Linked DNA regions of Homo sapiens. The protein of the gene in region 4 purifies or fractionates together with the protein of the main gene of each other region. This does not show direct contact. Each region holds a gene or a part of one and is shown on either strand. Other genes may lie near its edges.

Evidence for each region. Proteins that work in one complex are often made in the same cells at the same time.
Region 1: the proteins of ALG8 (region 4) and ALDH1A1 purify together in Homo sapiens (affinity purification with mass spectrometry; one large-scale study listed by BioGRID and IntAct). This does not show direct contact.
Region 2: the proteins of ALG8 (region 4) and TIGAR purify together in Homo sapiens (affinity purification with mass spectrometry; one large-scale study listed by BioGRID and IntAct). This does not show direct contact.
Region 3: the proteins of ALG8 (region 4) and GPR107 purify together in Homo sapiens (co-immunoprecipitation; one large-scale study listed by IntAct). This does not show direct contact.

The regions. Positions count from the first base shown.
Region 1 is NC_000009.12:72,900,740-72,905,340, forward strand, and holds part of ALDH1A1 (aldehyde dehydrogenase 1A1), read right to left. Parts: intron 542-4,601; coding exon 469-541; 3' UTR 1-468. UniProt on the Homo sapiens protein: Cytosolic dehydrogenase that catalyzes the irreversible oxidation of a wide range of aldehydes to their corresponding carboxylic acid.
Region 2 is NC_000012.12:4,333,926-4,338,526, forward strand, and holds part of TIGAR (fructose-2,6-bisphosphatase TIGAR), read left to right. Parts: intron 1-3,113; coding exon 3,114-3,235; intron 3,236-4,601.
Region 3 is NC_000009.12:130,051,656-130,057,019, forward strand, and holds the start of GPR107 (protein GPR107 isoform 3 precursor), read left to right. Parts: upstream 1-2,250; 5' UTR 2,251-2,277; coding exon 2,278-2,418; intron 2,419-5,364. UniProt on the Homo sapiens protein: Has been proposed to act as a receptor for neuronostatin, a peptide derived from the somatostatin/SST precursor.
Region 4 is NC_000011.10:78,129,427-78,134,027, forward strand, and holds part of ALG8 (dolichyl pyrophosphate Glc1Man9GlcNAc2 alpha-1,3-glucosyltransferase), read right to left. Parts: intron 1-4,601.

The DNA.
Region 1 (4,601 bases), on a different chromosome or scaffold from region 4:
TGACAAGCAGACATGACATCCTAGGAAACTTTTCAAAACAGTCCAAGGACTTTATAACTACTGGGAACAGAGCAATTTACTCTGCAGTTAACGTGTATGTTAAGTACTTCAAGAGTCACTAAGGGAAAGAAGCTAAATGCAACTGTTCCTTTTCTATAAAATTATTATCCTGCAAAAGTAGCTACAAAGGAAAATCACATAACTATGACAAAGCTAGAGAGATCATACATCCGAATTTGTCTTTTTTTATTTAGGATAGGACTTGGGGGTCACATTTCAGAAGGCAAATAATTCTTTCAGAAGAAGCTACATGTCAAGTTTTCTATGGGTAGTATTAATACTAATATGATTTAGCTTATGTTTAAAAAAATCAAGAAAAGAAAAATTTTGTCTTTAAAATCTACTATATTAGTGACTGTAAGGAGATGCTTAGCTATTGAAGAGCTTCTCTCCACTCTTGTATTTTCTTTATGAGTTCTTCTGAGAGATTTTCACTGTGACTGTTTTGACCTCTGTATATTCATGGAAACCGTACTCTCCCCTAGAGAGAAGAAAAACATACCCACAAACACCATTTAGCACAGCAGTATAAATATACTGTAGTTCATGTTTGGTACGAGTTTGTTCTTGTTTTACTGGCTAGGGACAATAGAAAATATTTCTTGTGTACAGAGCATTTTATATAGTAGCTAGCCAATCATAAGATTTCTGGTCTTACACAGATTCCCTTGTGGGGAAAATTTTCTTTAAAACTTTCATTTTAAATAATCATGTACTGTCAGTTGATTTCTCACATAAATTGTCCCCTTTTGACATTATTCTACTTGATTTTAAAAACTCGAACTGCAGATGCAACAAGATCATCTTGGAGAAATGAAAACAAAAAGCTCTAAAACTACTCAAAAGACAATTCGACCCAACAAGAATTTTGTCATTTCTAGTTTAGATTGAAATAAGATGGACATAGGACAAGAGGAGAAGTAGTAATATATGATCACTACAAGGTCTACTCTAGTTCTACAGTTTTATTGTAGTACTAGAGCAGAGCTTGTATTTACCATGTGTGATTGTCATAGAAGTGGTAAGGGGATAGAAATTGATCATGGTTTCATTTTTAGTCTGAGGTGCCCTAAGATGGCTTGAAACAAAATATTTTGCAGCAGTAGTTTCAGCAAAATCTTTTGATTCTTGGCAAAACAAAAACATGACCTTTATTTTTTATTTAAAACTTTTAAATTGTTTTCTTTTTAAGAGGAGGAAGATGATAGATTGGTCTAAATTCAGGCTCTTGGGCTTTTTGCAGTTGTTGTTTTTTCCCCTTTATACAACCTCCTCGTCCCCTACCATTTTCTTGTATAACTCTTAAGTTCAACCCAAATGATCAGGAATTAACTCAGTCAATCAGTTTGGATTTTGGGATCTTGTTATCAGGTTTATGGAGACCTCCCACCAGTTTTAGAAACTGACTGATTTACCCCTTGTTGAAGAGATGACTAAAAAGATTGGGCTCAGTTATTCTCTATATTGTTTTGATAAGAGGATCAAATTACATGTATATAAGAGTAGTCTCAAAATCATAACACTCATGCACATGTAGGCTTACAGAAGAATAAGATCTTGATCCTTTTTTACCCCTCCCTTCTTGTGATGTAGACAGGTATGTAGAAGACATCATTTTCTGCTGGGTAACCTAATACTCTTACACTGATTATTTTCTTGGGCAATTAAGCTTTTGAAAATACCTTTTAAAAGCTTCAGTGAGCATGGTCCTTAAAGTAATTAAAGGGCTTAGCCTCAGTTGTCTGAAACCCATTAAAAGATAATATTTTAATAAGTATTTTATCTCAGGGTTAGATCAATCAACCCATGACTTTCGCCAATAGGCTTTCCATTGTATTTTGGGTCATATAGGCACTTGAAGCTCTCAGGAGAGTAATAAGTGGGATTTTTGTCATATTCAGGCTGAAATATGTCCTGCTCCTTAGGATTCCTATGCCTATACTATATCTACGACATAGCCCCAAACATCTGTTTGGATTTCTCTTCATCTTACTATGTCTGTGAGTTACTGTTTGTATACTTCTAAAATCTTCAATGTACAAATCACCTGGGACCTTATTCAAATACTGATTCTGAATTAGCAGGTCTCGAGTGAAGCCTGAGTTGGCATTGGTAATAAACTTGCAAGTGATATCAACCTATGCTTCTTGTCCAGGGTCCACACTGTAAAAAAAAAAAAGGCACTAGTACCACATTACATCTGATTTCCTCTCTGTACCCAGGATTAAGACTGGCACTAATTAAGTAGGCACAGAAGAACTGTTTGCTGAACACACTTGGTAAATATCAAGAAAAAAAATTCATTTGTGTTCTCACTATACGACCATTAGTTTACACTTCCTTGCTCCCTTTTCTATGGGACAGGAGGAAAAAAATATGGTGGGAGGGGCTAAGAGCCAATCAAGTTTAAAATGGCATACTAGCAAAGTCTTAAAGGACCTACGTTAACCTAAGTGAAACAGTACAGTTACACAAAGGGAGGAATTTCTGTCTTTTAACTAATCCCAGAGCCAACACTATGATCAGAGATGCAAAATCAAGATTTGCATACTCTGTATCACCTTCAAACACACTGGGGTCTGCATAACACCATTTTTCGCTCTTTGAGGACTCTGTTCTCAACTGATCAATTCTCTCTATTGTTGAGGAAAATTTATAATTTAACTCTTGGGAGTCATTTGAGGTTATCGCCTGAGTAATAACTTGTAACTCTTGGAACATCTTGCAGCAAATGACTTGGTTATTAAATTCACCAAATTTGGTTTCAGGTACACTTTAACTGTAGCATTCTCTAGTTGAATTTTTGAAGTAAAAAAAAAAAAACCCACAACTTTTTCCTTTGTATTTGAAAGAAATTATCTATACTCATGTTCTAGATTTTTAGGAAATTACTGATGGTTGATTCCTGTTTTCAGTCCTTCTCTTATTTGATTTCTTTATGCCTTCACCTTAAAGTCTGACCAAATTATGTTCAACGAAATTGACATGTTTGGTCTACTTTAGTCTTGCATTCCTTTTGATTATTTTATCTTTAATGTTCTCAGTGAAATGTGTTGTTAGATAACCAGGCCAGAAACGAACCAACTGCCCTTCAGAGTAATCTAACCTTTGTTCTTACTTTTTGTACAAAGTAATTAGTTTTGCCAAGAGATTCTCCAGTAATAGAAAGAGAAGAAACTAGGGAAGGAAGAAACCCATTTGTTGAATTTACACTTTGTGACAGTTATGTGGCTAGGGATTTAATATTCAGTATGTCATTTAACTCCCACAAGAACTCTCATTCCATCTTAAGAGGAATGTGAACATCTCCACCAAATATGAGAAAGTAGAGGCTCAGAAGTTAGGTAGCTTGAACTGGGGTGCATGGCTAGCAAGTGGCAGAATTAGGAATCAAATTCAGCTGGTCAGACTCCAGTAATGTTTTCTCAGCTACGCCATGCATTTTTGATGGGCTAACTTTTTGTTCTACTTCAGCAACATCCTAAATATATCCATGGCTTTTCACTACTCCACTAATAAAATCTAAGTCAAATTTCTTAAATGCAGGACTTCTTAATCTGTATCATATGTTACTCTGAAATCATATTTTTCATCCCCATAAATCCACACCAATCAACAAAATTCACTAGCCCCTCAACATACCACATGTAATGTTCCATGCAAGAAAGCCCTCTTCTCTACTAACTGATATCCTACACTTGCTTTCTGCCCTAGAGGAAGTTTCATCTCTTCTGTTAGGAGAAGTTTTCTTCTCTATAAACTGCCATTAAGTTTTCAACCACTGGATTTCCAGTGGGGTCAGAACTATAGAATCTTAAGCATGGAATAGAGGTTAAAAGATCTATTTTCTTCTTCCACTCTTATCCACACTCACAATCCTTGGCCTTGTCTGACAGATGAAAATAGTGATGGTTAGAGAGATGCCATCCTGACTCTTATACTCTGGTAGTGTCTAGGTTTTCTTCAATACTTTGCTCGGTACTTTAATTGCTTCTCTACCTCCATAGGATATGGAATCCCAGTGTATTACTACTTATTTCATAGTGTATGTAGGTTATTTTGCATGTCCTGCCACCACAGCTATGTAGAGCATGGAACATGGTGTCATGTCTCTGGGGTTCCTAGGACCTTACACATAGCAAGTGCTTAATAAATGAAAGCATATTGAGAAAGTAGACTGGTCATTTTATAATTCTCCCATTTCACTGACTCTTCAGAGATATTTGTTTCCTTGTAATTTTGCTGATTTGTTAGAGTACGGTACTCAACCATTTAATACATTTAGAGATTGAGAAAGGCACATTTTCACTTCCTAATTACAAAATGAGCAAGTTTACGATCTGTGTTTGATACTATAAGGTTTCTATTTCTTTTTTCTTCATAAATGTTTACATTAATACATGTAAAAAAGTTTTAAGAAATAAAATGACTAAACTTGCCTAAACAAAATCAACTAAGCATATTGCCACTACTTTCTGTATTTACATATATATGTGCATACTTAAAAAGTCTATATACCCTAGTTTCAAAAGCAATTGAAA
Region 2 (4,601 bases), on a different chromosome or scaffold from region 4:
GTGACTGTTTGCCTTTATTCTGGTCACTGATGTGTTTCGATTTTTTTTCTTTGTTTTTTTTTTCCCCTTCTTTTTATAGTCTTTCTTTTTTTAATCTTACCTGCTTTTACTTCTTAAGTTCTTGGTTTTTTTCCTGTTCCACACTTTCTTACTTTCCCCACTACCTTTCAAATGATGTACCATTTCCATTCTTTTCAAGGTTATCTTAAAATTCTTACCCTCATACCTGTCTTAGCCAAGGCTGCTGTAACAGAGTATCATGGACCCAGTGGCTTAAACAATACACAGTTCTAGAGACTGTGAATTCCAAGATCAGGGTGCCAGCAGATCCAGTGTCTGTGGAGGACCTGATTCCTGGTTTGCGGACTGCTGTCTTCTGGTTAATATCCTCACATGGCAGAGAGATAGATTGAGAACACTTATAAGGACACTAATCCTGTTCATGAGGGCTCCACCCTAGGATCTAATCACCTCCCAAAGGCCTGCCTCCTAATACGATCACATTGAGGGTTAGGATGTCAACATTTGAATTTTGGGGGGACACATTTACTCTGACAATACCTAATAAAGTATAATATTAATATCCCCTCTTCCAAAAAATACAAAGAACTTGTCTAGTCGCTTAGTCCTGTCTTTTTTTAATTGCTTGAGGTAGACATTATTATCTTCATTTGTTTAGATGGCATTTAAATTTATGAATATATTTGCAAGTTTCTCTGCTCCTCATTTGTTTTCGTCTCAGACCATTCCTGAAGTACGTTCTTTGAAAAGTCCTCTAGTGTGTGTAGAGCAGCTGGTGGTAAACATAGTGGCTTCAGTCGGTACACACTTGTAACTGATGATTCTCTCAGCACTTGGAAGATAGCATTCTGCAGTTTTGGTTCCATTTTTCCTGTTAAGAGATTTCTATCAGCTAAATGGTGTTCCATGGTAGGAAATATGTCTTTCTCTGTAACTTCCTTTAAACTCTTCAATTTTGATATTCTTTAGTTTCTCATAATATATCTAGGAGGAATTTTTTTTTTAATGTATCCTGCTTGATGTACATGTGTTTTCTTATTCTGTGAAATTCTTAGCTATTTTCTTTTCATATTCCTCTCCTTCATTTTTTCTGTTCTTTTATTTTTTTGAGACGGAGTTTCACTCTTGTTGCCCAGGCTGGAGTGCAGTGGTGTGATCTTGACTCACTGCAACCTCCGCCTCCTGGGCTCAAGTGATTCTCCTGCCTCAGCCTTCCAAGTAGCTGGGATTACAGGCGTGCTCCACCATGCCCAGCTAATTTTGTATTTTTAGTAGAGACAGGATTTCGCCATGTTGGCCAGTCTGACTTTGAACTCCTGACCTCGAGTGATCCACCCCCTTCAGCCTCCCAAAGTGCTGGGATTGCAGGCGTGAGCCACCATGCCCGGCCATTTTTTTTTTTTTATTCCTTTAGAGTTCCAATTAGATGCATGTTATAGACTGAATGTTTTTCTTCCCAAAAGTTACATGTTGAAATCATAACTCCCAATATGATGACATTAGGAGGTGGGGTCTTTGGGTGGTTATTAGGTCACAAGGGTGCAGCCCTCATGAATGGAATTTATTCAAGAGACACCAGAGAGCTCTTTCCTCTTTGTGCCATGGGAGCACTGAAGGAGAAGTCAGTAGCGTGTAATGTGGAGAGGCCCTCACCAGAACCCAACCATGATGGTACCCTCATCTCAAACTTCCAGCCTCCAGAACTGTGAGAAATAAATATCTGTTGTTAACAAGTCACCCAGTCTGTAGTACTTTGTTACAGCAACTAAGACAAGGCATCGTTAGGAGTTCTCATTCTTTCCTTTAGAACTCTAATATATCTGAGCTATGCTCTATCTCCTTGTATCTGTGCCGTGTACTGGGTAATATCTTCTGCTCTGTCTTTGAGTTCATTAAACCTCCTTTCATCTGAATCTCTGTTTATCCATTGAGGGGCCCTCCAGCCCCCAGCAATCCTGATTTTTATTATTAAAAGATCTATTTGGTTATTTTAGAAAATTGTCTACTTATTTTTGATGCTTACTGTTACTTGCTTATTTTTGTGACTCTGTCTTTATGTTTTATTCATAGTTATTGTAAATTCCCTATTTGCTGATTTCAATGTCTGAAGTCTTGATGGGTGGCTTTGGTTTATGGTAGATTATTTTCTTGTGTGTTGAATCTTTGGCTAAACAATTATTTGTTCTAAATTAGTGGAAAACCTGTTAGCCTCTTTTGAGAATGCTTTGCTCTGAAAAGGATTTGCATTTTATTTTACCACAGGCCTGAGGCTGCATTAAGTCTCCTTACAGGAGCCCTCGCTCCCAAGAATGTTGTGTTTAGTCCTCCCGCTTGCCGTCCCCTCCAGCAGGCCTCCTCTCCCAGCCCCACCAGCGTGTCCTCATAGTCCACCACCTTCATTTTTTTCATGTCGGTATTCACAGTTCAGCTCAGGGCTTTGGGGTTGCTTTACTTTGTCCCTTGGAGATTTTTTGTATGTTCTGTGGGCCCAGCAATGCAGCACACACACACACACACACACACACACACACACACACACACACACACACTCACACACATACACCATTTAGATCTTTAGTAGGAGGTCCCTTCAGAGTGTCCAGCCAACCGTTATCCTGGAAATAGAGGTTTCAAAGCATTTTTAAAATGAAAAAGACAAAGAAATGGAGGGAGGAAGGAAAGAGGAAAAGTAATACCATTATAATACTGAGCATTTGGATGATGGGAATAAAGAAGGAAAAAACTTTTAGATGATGGTCCTACCGCCCCAACACAGTACCTGTAAGATCAGAGCCAATTAATGAAGAGAGGGGCAAACATAAAAGAGGGAAAAGCTAAGACATTTCTATCTCATCATCACCTAATTCCCATTAGGCAAGCATTCTTTTGGAAAATAATTGAATACCTGAGCCTTTAAAGACTTAAAACTTATTTTTACTTGCTAATAACTCCCTGAAAAGTTACGTGGAAGAGTACTTAAAAAATCTTTCATTAAAATTTAGATAAATGCAGCTTATATTTTCTACATGTGATTTATACATCTCTGATATGTAGTTTTGAATGTTATTGTTCCTCTTCTTAATATATCACAGGACAAGGAGTAGATGAACCTCTTTCAGAAACTGGATTTAAACAAGCAGCAGCTGCTGGTATATTTCTGAATAATGTGAAGTTTACTCATGCTTTCTCCAGTGATCTCATGAGGACAAAGCAGGTACATTTATTTATTTATTTATTTTGAGACAGAGCGTCACTCTATGCCCAGGCTGGAGTGCAGTGGTGCAGTCTCTGTTCACTGCAACCTCCATCTCCCGGGTTCAAGTGATTCTGATGCCTCAGCCTCCCAATAGCTGGGATTACAGGTGTGTGCCACCACACCTAGCTAATTTTTGTATTTTTAGTAGAGATGGGGTTTTGCCATGTTGCTGGTCTCAAACCCCTAACCTCAGGTGATCCACTTGCCTCAGCCTCCCAAAGTGCTGGGATTACAGGCGTGAGCCACCACGCCCAGCAACAGGTGAGTTTAGAGTCAAGGTCTAGGCTGATGTGCCAAAAGTCTCAACAATTGTATAATCTTGAAAAATCTGCTACCAGAGTCTGTAGGGAATTAAATCCCAAACAGACATGACCTTCCTCAACAGAACTTATTTATTTTAATTTTATTTTGTACTTTTTAAAAAAAATAATTTTTAAATTAGAGTAGCCTAGAAAAAAAAGTCCAGCAAGAATATAAATAAGCTATTATGAGAGAGAGCAGGGAAAATGACAGGAGAAATTAATCCACTGTGACATCAGGTATTAGGATTACCAGATAGAGTAAGAAACCACTATGTCACTGTAAAGAAATAAAAGACTTGTTAGAAATATCTTCAGGGAACAGATTACTATAAAAATGAAAAACCAGTTGGGCATGGTGGCTCATGCCTGTGATCCCTGCACTTTGGGAGGCCGAGGCAGGTGGATCACTTGAGGTCAGGAGTTCAAGACCAGCCTGGCCAACATGGTGAAACCCTATCTCCACTACAAATACAAAAATTAGCCAGGTGTGGTGGCGTGCACCTTAATCCCAGCTACTTGGGAGGCTGAGGCAGGAGAATCGCTTGAACACAGGAGGCAGAGGTTGCAGTGAGCCAAGATCGTGCCGTTGCATGGTTGGGCTACAGAGCAAGACTCTTGTCTCGAAAATAAAAAAAAAGTAAAATTAAAAACGAACCCAGTCTACTTCTAAAAACTCCATGGAAGGAGAGTTTTGTGACCAACTGTGAGTGAGGTATTGTTGGAATTTCATCTCCCCTATAAACAATTAGAAAATGTGGCAAAATATGTGAAACCACTGTTTTCAGATATTAGACTTTGGGCACTGTGGGCCTATGATGCCTGAATGAAGTAGAACAAAGAAGGTGAGCCCTAGGGAGTGTCCTGGTTTTCTGGCTGAAGCAATTTCCAGACTCTGGTAGGGGAAGCCAAGTAGTGCTTAGAGGTCTCCGTGAGTTAAGGAGACAAAACTTGGAATTTGGGGAGGTTAATTTTTACATAACTTAAATTTGTGGGGCAGAGTAATGGAAGAAAGACGTGGATAG
Region 3 (5,364 bases), on a different chromosome or scaffold from region 4:
AATACAAAAATTAGCTGAGCATACTGGCGCACACCTGTGGTCCCAGCTAGGGAGGCTGAGGCATGAGAATCCCTTGAACCTGGGAGGTGGAGACTACAGTGAACAGATGTCACACCACTGCACTCAGTCCTGGGCAACAGTGTCTCTGTCTCAAAAAAAAAAGGAGAGAAAATAGAAAAATAAAATGTACTTGACTAAGAGAGTAAGGCTAAAAGCCAAGCTTAGGAGATCAGTCTTTCCAGCCCCTGCAGGCTTTTTCAGTCAATACCTTAAAGTGTAATGTCCCTTTGAAAATGTTGCCAGGAGAAGCAGGCATAACTTGTTCTGTTACTCAGCCTGTTTGTTTCCAGTTACAGCATCATGATTATGCAAATAATCTTTTCTTGAAACTATGAAATCACATGGCTAAATGTAATTGTCAAGGCAGCAGTTTTCTAGAATTTAAGAAGTAACTGTAGAGAAAATGCTCAACAATGTCTTTGTAGTCAGTTTTCCCTCATTCTTATTCCTCTCAATTCCAAAATAATGACTGGCACAATACAGCTTTCAAATATGTGAAAGAAGAAGATATCCTCTTAAACCCCTGGACAGACAGCACTGGTATGACCCTATGTAGGTCACATGATAATACCCAAGTATAGAGAAGCAAGGAATGCTATGAACCCAGTTTTAAGCCCTTATAAAACTGTTGTCCAGAAACTAAGACAAAAGTCTCCTATTTAAAACTATTTTAATGTTTCATCACTATTGTATTATAAAATGGGATTAAGATTCTTACCTGATTTTTTTTTTATTGAGACAGAGTCTCACTCTGTCACCCAGGCTGGAGTGCAGTGGCATGATCTTGGCTTACTGAAACCTCTGCCTCCCAGGTTCAAGTGCTTCTCCTGCCTCAGCCTCCCCAGTAGCTGGGACTACAGGCGCGCGGCCGTGATGCCCCGCTAATTTTTGTATTTTTAGTAGAGACGAGGTTTTGCCATGTTGCCCAGGCTGGTCCCGAACAACTGACTTTCAAGTGATCCGCCCGCCTCGGCGTTCCAAAGTGCTGGGATTCAGGCGCGAATCACCACCCTGCCAGGCCTCATTTCGTTTTTAGTACAGTATTATATTCAAATTTAAAACCAGAGATTTTCAAAGATGCCACTTAACTTTAAAAGATAAAAAGTACTCCAAAGCAGGTTGGGCGCAGTGACTCACGCCTGTAATCCCAGCACTTTGGGAGGCCGAGGCGGGAGGATAACTTGAGGTCAGGAGTTCGAGACCAGCCTGGCCAACATGGGAGAAACCCCGTGTCTACTAAAAATACAAAAATTAGCCGGGCGTGGTGGCGCAGGCCTGTAATTCTAGTTACTCCAGAGGCTGAGGCAGGAGAATCGCTTGAACCCAGAAGGCGGAGGTTGCAGTGAGCTGAGATCGTGCCATTGCACTCCAGCCTGGGTGACAAGAGCTAGACTCCGTCTCAAAAAAAAGAAGTTCCTATAATTTCTGAAAGAAGCAAAGAAAGTTTCCATACAGAATTAAGAGAAAAATGTTAAGACCCAGACTTGGGGTTGGATGAAATAGCATGAGGCAACAGAACACAGGAGTTAAGAGCTTCCGTGTGATTCCCAGCTCAACCTGGAGCAAATGACTTATTTCTCAGAGCCTCAGTTTGCTTACCTGTAAAGTAGGAATAATGATAATACGTACCTCCTAGCTCATCAAATTGTTCCAAAAATTAAATACAACAAAAGGCCTAACAAATTGCCTCATAAGGGCTCAATCAATCGTATTATTGCAACCATTTCGCTTGTATTTGAGTGTGAAGCGCCTAGAAAACCACAGGACCCCTACGGCGAGCCGGGAATTTTTAGATATTTTCCTCCGAGTCAACGCTCAGTGAAATCAGTTCAATCAGTGGCCCGACACCGTGCGGCTGACACAGCTTATCCCCCGACCCTGAGATCAGGGGTCCCCGGAGCCCAAGGTCGCTTCCAAAGCTCAGCGAGGCGGAGGTGCGGCCCGGGCTGGTCTGGTTCGGCCACCGTTGTTATGGCAACCGCCAATAGGTTGGCTTCATCTCTAACTGAAAGTCTGCACAGGAGCGGCCGATCGAAGGGCCCCGAGGTGGGCAGCACAGGCTCCTCGACGACTTCCTAGGTCGCAATCTCCAGGAAAACGACCACAGGGTCAGCGGAGCTAGCCGCCGAGCCCCGCTCCCCGGGCCCTTCCGGCGGCTGCGCCCTTTCACCCCGGACGTGGGCGGGAGAGGAAGCGGCTGGTGATGCTGGAACAAACATGGCCGCTCTGGCGCCCGTCGGCTCCCCCGCCTCCCGCGGTCCTAGGCTGGCCGCGGGCCTCCGGCTGCTCCCAATGCTGGGTTTGCTGCAGTTGCTGGCCGAGCCTGGCCTGGGCCGCGTCCATCACCTGGCACTCAAGGTAAAGCTTGGCAAGGCCGGGCCGGGGGGCGGAGGCCGAGGCCACTCCCCGGGTTTTAGGGCAACTTTGGCCCATTGGGGACCTCTGAGCCACTGGACCACCTCTTTGCCCCTGGCTGCGGCCTTTCACTGACAGGTGGCGGGGTCTGTGGGGAAGGCGGGTCTGGGCGGCGCTGGGGTCTTCGGGCTGACCGGCACGGGGCGGGAAGACTCGAGCTGAGGGAGGGGAAGGGGCTGAACTGTGGCGTTGCCCCCACGGACTCGGGAGGCTGCTCTTAAATCCCTGCTGGCTTCCCTGAATTCCTCACTCAGGGCAGCCCGATCGCCTTTCTTCTTTCTCCCCTCCAGCTTTTATGCTGGCTTTCCTTGTCCGCGGTCTCCGCTCTTCTGTGCCCTTGTACTGTACCGGCGGTTTGAAGGTACTTGGAACCTTAGCCTCAGTTTCCCATTTCGGTTTAGGGCGCTCTCTGGAGCGAGACTCTAGAGAAGGAATTTCAAATCTTGCTTAAAACACGTGACTGAGAATGTAAAGCCAGCATTAAGGTGTGTCTCTAATCAAAGGGCCTGCTTTTTCTTCCTCTATCCAGCCATTGTCTAGGGAAGAGAGATTTTTGATAAACCTAGAATGATACTCTGGATCTTGCTTTGTAACTAGCAGAGAAAAGACCTCTAAGGCTGAAACGCACCCTAAGGTGGTTCAGCAGTTTACTATATCTGGGAAATTGTCCAGGTGCTGTGGCTCATGCCTGTAATCCCAACACTGGGAGGCCTATGCAGGAGGATTGTTTGAGCCCAGGAGTTCGAGACCAGCCTAGTCAACGTGCTAAGGACCCCCTCCCCAAACCTGTCTCTACAAAAAATTAAAAATTAACCAGGTGTGGTGGCAAACGCCTGCAGCTTCTGGGGAGGCTGAGGCTGGAGGATCACTTGAGCCTAGGAGGTTGAGACTGCAGTGAGCCGTGATTACTCATTGCATTCCAGCCTGAGGAACAGAGCAAGACCCTTTCTCAAAACATATAAACAAAATTAGAGACATAGAAAAGTAAATTGTTATGACCCAAACTCTTGTACATTATTTTCATACCATACAGTCTTCTAAGAAGTGGAACTGTAGGCGGGGCGCGGTGGCTCACGCCTGTAATCCTAGCACTTTGGGAGGCCGAGGCAGGCAGATCACGAGGTGAGGAGATCGAGACCATCCTGGCTAGCACGGTGAAACCCTATCTCTACTAAAAATAAAAAAAAAATTAGCCAGGCGTGGTGGCAGGCGCCTGCAGTCCCAGCTACTCGGGAGGCTAAGGCAGGAGAATGGCGTGAACCTGGGAGGCGCTTGTAGTCCCAGCTACTCGGGAGACTGAGGCAGGAGAATGGCGTGAACCCGGGAGGCGGAGCTTGCAGTGAGCCAAGATCCCGCCACTGCACTCCAGCCTGGGCAACAGCGCGAGACTCCGTCTCAAAAAAAAAAAAAAAAAGAAGTGGAACTGTAGAAAGTTTGTCTTGTAAAAACACATTGTTTTAGCAAACTATGAAGCATTGTATTTTGTTAATGTAGAATTTAAAGAATACAGAATGAAATTAAAAGCCTGGCTTGACTGGGCACGGTGGCTCACACCTATAATCCTAGCACTTTGGGAGGCCGAGGTGGGCGGATCACCTGAGGTCAGGAGTTCGAGACCAGCCTGGCCAACATGGCAAAACCCCTCTCTACTAAAAATACAAATATTAGACGGGCATGGTGGCACATGCCTGTAGTCCCAGCTACTTGGGAGGCTGAGACAGGATAATTGCTTGAACCCGGGAGGCTGAGATTGCAGTGAGCAGAGATCATTGTGCCACTGCACTCCAGTCGGGGCGAAAGAACTATACTCTGTCTCAAATAAATAAATAAATAAATAAATAAATGCAAGCCTGACTGGATCCATACAACCTTACTTTTTGGTAACAACTTTTGTTGTTTGTAGGTAAAAATTATCCTGATTAAAATGGTTCAATCACAGGGGTGGGGGTGGGGCAAGTGAATTTTGACTCTTTGAGAATCTGTTGAGAGCTATAGAACCTCTCTCCAGAAAAGTGCATGTAGAAATGTAGACAAAACTTGGCCGGGCACGGTGGCTCACGCCTGTAATCCCAGCACTTTCAGAGGCTGAGGTGGGTGGATCACTTGAGGTCAGGAGTTTGAGACCAGCCTGGCCAACATTGTGAAATCACATCTCTACTAAAAATACAAAAATTAGCCAGGCGTGGTGGCAGGTACCTGTAATCCCAGCTACTCGGGGCTGAGGCAGGAGAATCGCTTGGACCCAGGAGTAGGAAGTTGCAGTGAGCCAAGATTGAGCCCCTGTACTCCAGCCTGGGCGACAGAGCAAGACTCCGTCTCAAAATAAATAAATAAATAAAATAAAATAAACATCCGAAGTCAGGGGTGTCCAATCTTTTGGCTTCCCAGGGCCACATTGGAAGATGAAAAGTTGTTTTGGGTCACACCTAAAATAGACTAACAGTAACCATAGCTGATAAGCTTTAAAAAATTGCAAAAAAATCTCATAATGTTTTAAGAAAGTTCACAAATTTGGCTGGGCGCAGTGGCTCACGCCTGTAATCCCAGCACTTTGGGAGGCCGAGATGGGCGGATCACAGGGTCAGGAGATTGAGACCATCCTGGCTAACAAGGTGAAACCCCGTCTCTACTAAAAATACAAAAAATTAGCCAGGCGTGGTGGCAGGTGCCGGTGGTCTCAGCTACTCGGGAGGCTGAGGCAGGAGAATGGCATGAACCCGGGAGTCGGAGCTTGCAGTGAGCCAAGATCACGCCATTGCATTCCAGCCTGGGTGACAGAGCGAGACTCCTTCTCAAAAAAAAAAAAAAAAAAAAAAAAAAAGAAAGTTCACAAATTTGTGTTGGGCCGCATTCAAAGCCATCCTGGGCCGCATGCATCCTGGACAAGCT
Region 4 (4,601 bases):
AAAAAAAAATGTGCAAAGTAAAACTATTTGCAACAGGTAAAAAGTGGAGATAAATGTCCACAAACAGCAGAATAGCTAAATAAATTGTGGTGTTTTCACACAATGGAATACTGTAGAGCAGCAGTTCTCAAAGTGTGATTCAGGGACTCACAGGGAGACCCTTTCAAGGAGTTTGAAATATGTACTATTTTCATAATAATATTCAGATGTAATTTGTTCTACTTTCACTCATTCTCTCACAAGTATACAGTGATGTTCTAGAGGCTACATAATGTGATGTCATCACTCTGAAGGCCAGTGAAATTTGTGCTTGTATATTCTTGTGCTTGAACAATTTGTTTTAATTTCTAAAATGGTAATTATCTATTATACAGCCCACATAAACATATAGCTCTTTGTGACCCTCAATTATTTTTAAGAAGTGATTCTGACTAAAAAGTTTGAGAACCATGCTATCTAGTGATAAGAATGAAAAAACAGTAATTACACAACAACGCACAAACTTAATGTTGAGTGAAAGCCAGACCCAAGAGAATAGATTGTATGATTACATTTGTATAAAATTCAAAAACAAACAAAAAAAACCCAAACAAAAATTCAAAAACAGGCAAAATTTAACCTATGCGGTTAAAAGAACATCAGAGGCCAGGCATGATGGCTCACGCCTGTAATCCCAACACTTCGGGAGGCCAAGGCGGGTGGATCACTTGAGCTCAGGAGTTCAAGACCAGCCTGGGTAACAATGAGACCCCATCTCTCAAAAAATTTAAAAATTAGCCAGGCATGGCGGCACGCCCCTGTAGTCCCAGCTACTCAAGAGGTTGAGGTGGGAGGACTGCCTGAGCCCAAGAGGCTGAGGCTACAGTGAGCCAAGTTTGCACCACTGCACTCCAGCATGGGAGACAGAGCAAGACCCGGTCTCAAAAAAAAAAAAAAAAAAAGGTGAGAATATCAATACCTTTAGTGGGGTGGGGTTGTGGGGAGTGGCTGGAAAGATGCCCGAGGGATAATATTCTGCTTATTGATCTATATGCTTTTTACAGATGTATTCACTTTGCAAAAATTCAGTGAGCTGTACATTTATGATTTGCACTTCTGGTATTTTATACTGGATTTTGTATGGAATTCTAGGTTGAAATTTACTTCCACTGAACTTTGGAAGCTTATTCCATTGGTTTTTAGTATAAAATGTTGATGTTGGTAAGTCTCTTTACTTTATGGTTTTCCCTTCATCTCTGGAAGTTTCCTGTTTCTCCTTTTTATCCATAGCAGTCTGAAATGTCTAGTGATTAATGTCTTCATGAGGGTCTTTTTTCATTAATTATGCTGAGTATGTAGTGCCTTCAGCTCTGGGAAATTTATTATTTGTTAATCTCCTCCCCTGTGTTTTTTTTCTGAAATTTTTTTAGATGGATGCTAGACACCCTAGATTGAACTTATAATTTTTATCTTTTCTCTTATATTTTTGAAAGATTTACTCAATTTGTCCTTAATTTTGGCAATAACATTTTCTATTAACCACTGTTTCTCTGATAATTCCTGTTTCATAGCATCTGTTCTTGTTTTATAGACATGTCTTTTTTACTCTCTTTGGAGACAGCATTTACAAAATCTGAGTGAGTTTGGGGACACTTTCTTTTCCTATATAGTTGTACTATATAGACTTTTTCCAGTCTCTTTTTTGGGTGCTTTATTTTGTTGTTTCCTATTCAAAACTGTTGGAGACTTCACTTTTGTTGGAGTGCTGGGATTACAGGCGTGAGCCACTGCACCCATCAGTAAAAGTAATCTTAATTGCTGAAATGACACTTGAAAAAAAAAGCAAAACTAAGACTAGAGACATAATGATAAATAGTAACTACTTTTTTAAATTGCATTAACAAAATCTACAATCAGCCGAGCACAATGGTTCATGCCTATAATCCCAGTACTTTGGGAGGCCATGGTGGGAGGATAGCTTGAGGTTGGAAGTTCAAGACCAGCCTGGGCAACATAATGAGACTCCCATCTCTACAAAAAACTTAAAAATTAGCTGGTGTGGTGGTGTGCACCTGTAGTCCCAGCTACTCAGGAGGCTGAGGCCAGAGGACGGCTTGAGCCCAGGAATTTGAGGCTGCAGTGAGCTATGACTGTGCCACTGTAATCTAGCCTGAGCAACAGAGTTAGACTCTGTCTCTAAAATTTTTGACCACCATCTCCAGCTAATTCTTTGTATTTTTTGTAGAGACGGGGTTTCATTATGTTGCCCAGGCTGGTCCCAAACTCCCAAGCTCAAGCAATCTGCCTGCCTTGGCCTTCCAAAGTGCTGGGATTACAGGTGTGAGCCACTGCACCCAGCCCTGTCTCTAAAAATTAAAACAAACAAAAACCTACCATCTCTTACTTGTCCTATGATAGCTTCTTAAATTGAACTCCCCATCTTCACTCAGGCCCTTCATTAATCTAGCTTTCACATTGCAGCCAAAGTAGTATTTCTAAATCACGAATGTTATATTTCCCTTTTAACTGGCCTCTGCCCTCTGGATAAAATCTAAAGTACTCAACATAGTCTAAAAGATATTTTTGGATCTCGCTTACTCACCTTTTCAGCCCATTTCTCACCATCCTCCCACCTGTCTTTGTCTTACTCTACATTCACCTTTTCCCTCTGCCTGCAACACTCTGTGTGAGGTAGGTTCTTTAACTCTTACCATTTCACCAGTGGCGTAGAGAAGCAGCTTGCCCTGTCATGTAGCCAGTATGCAGCAGAGCCAGATTCTAACCAGGGCAGTCTGACTCCCTAGCTACGGCTCTTAAACCACCAAATACTTCCAAAGTTAGTTGTTATTTTCTCTGCAAATCCTTCCTGACCTCAAGGCAAAATAAATCTTTAATTTGTCCATTTCTATCTCTAATGCCACCACTCCAATTCAAGTCAGCATCTTCTCTCATGTAGACTTTCTCAAAGGGCACCTAGCCTTCCTGACTCTCCTTCTGCCTCCTCCAATCATTTATATGGGAGCCAAAAAATATTTTATAAATGCAGATCATTTCCACTGAGCTTATAAAATCAAAATCTAAATTTTTCATCCTGGCTTTATAAGCTCCGGCATGATTTGGTGCCTATCTTTCCAATTTCACTGTGCATGTTTCTGTCTCTGTTGCTTATTCCATGCCAGCTACACTGGCCTTATCATAGCTGCCCAAATAGGTCAATACTTTCACACCACAGGGCCTATATTTATACAGTGTGCTCTTTCAGATAAGTTCTACACACTTGCACACACCACATACTCTGCATGGATGGCCCTCTCATTCACACTTTAGGCCTCCAATGATGTCAGTTCCTCAGAGACATTCTCTGACACCTAACTGAAAGTACATCTTCCTTCTTGGTCGCCTGATAGGATCCTGTTCTTCTTCTTCCATTTTTTTTTTTTTTTTTTTTTTAGATGGAGTCTCACTCTGTCGACCAGGTTGGAGTGCAGTGGCGCTATCTCGGCTCACTGCAAGCTCCGCCTTCCGGGTTCATGCCATTCTCCTGCCTCAGCCTCCCCAGTAGCTGGGACTACACGCGCCCACCACCACACCCGGCTAATTTTTGTATTTTCAGTAGAGACGGGGTTTCATCGTGTTAACCAGGATGGTCTCGATCTCCTGACCTCGTGATCCGCCCGCCTCGGCCTCCCAAAGTGCTGGGATTACAGGCGTGAGCCACCACACCCAGCCTCTTCTTCCTAATACTTAATCCAAATTGTAGTTATGTAACTATATATTTGCATTGATTTGTTTCTTGTACTGTTATACTTACTGAACTACACACTTCACAGGGCTAGGGATCATATCTATTTTTTCCTCCCTTCTAGCCTAGCAACAGTACCTGGTACATAATAAAGCAATTAGTAAATGTTTTGTTGAATATATCTGCATTTATCCTGTAACTTCCCTCTCATATCCCAGGGGTTTCTGGTTTGAGAAACAGAGCATTAACTACAATTAAAAACATTCGTTTTTAAATATATGAAGTGTTTCATAAATTTGCATGCTATCCTTGTGCGTGGACCATGCTAAGCTTCCTGTATCATTCGATTTTAGTGCAGGCATACCTTAGAGATATTGTGGGTTTAGACCACCATAATGAAGTGAATATCGCAATAAAGTGAGTCACATGAATTTTTTGATTTCCCAGAGCATGTAAAAGTTATGTTTACACTGGCCGGCCGCGGTGGCTCACGCCTGTAATCCCAGCACTTTGGAGGCCGAGGCGGGCGGATCACGAGGTCAGGAGATCGAGACCACCCTGGCTAACATGGTGAAACCCCATCTCTACTAAAAATACAAAAAAAATTAGCCGGGCTTGGTGAGGGGCGCCTGTAGGGTCAGCTACTCGGTAGGCTGAGGCAGAAGAATGGTGTGAACCCGGAAGGTGAGCTTGCAGTGAGCCGAGATAGCGCCACTGCCCTCCAGCCTGGGCGACAGAGCGAGACTCCGTCTCAAAAAAAAAAAAAAGTTATGTTTACACTATACTATAAAACGTGCAATACTACTATGTCTAAAAAGACAGCGTACACCTTCATTTTAAAATACTTTATCGCTAAAACAAAGCTAATGATCATCTGCAC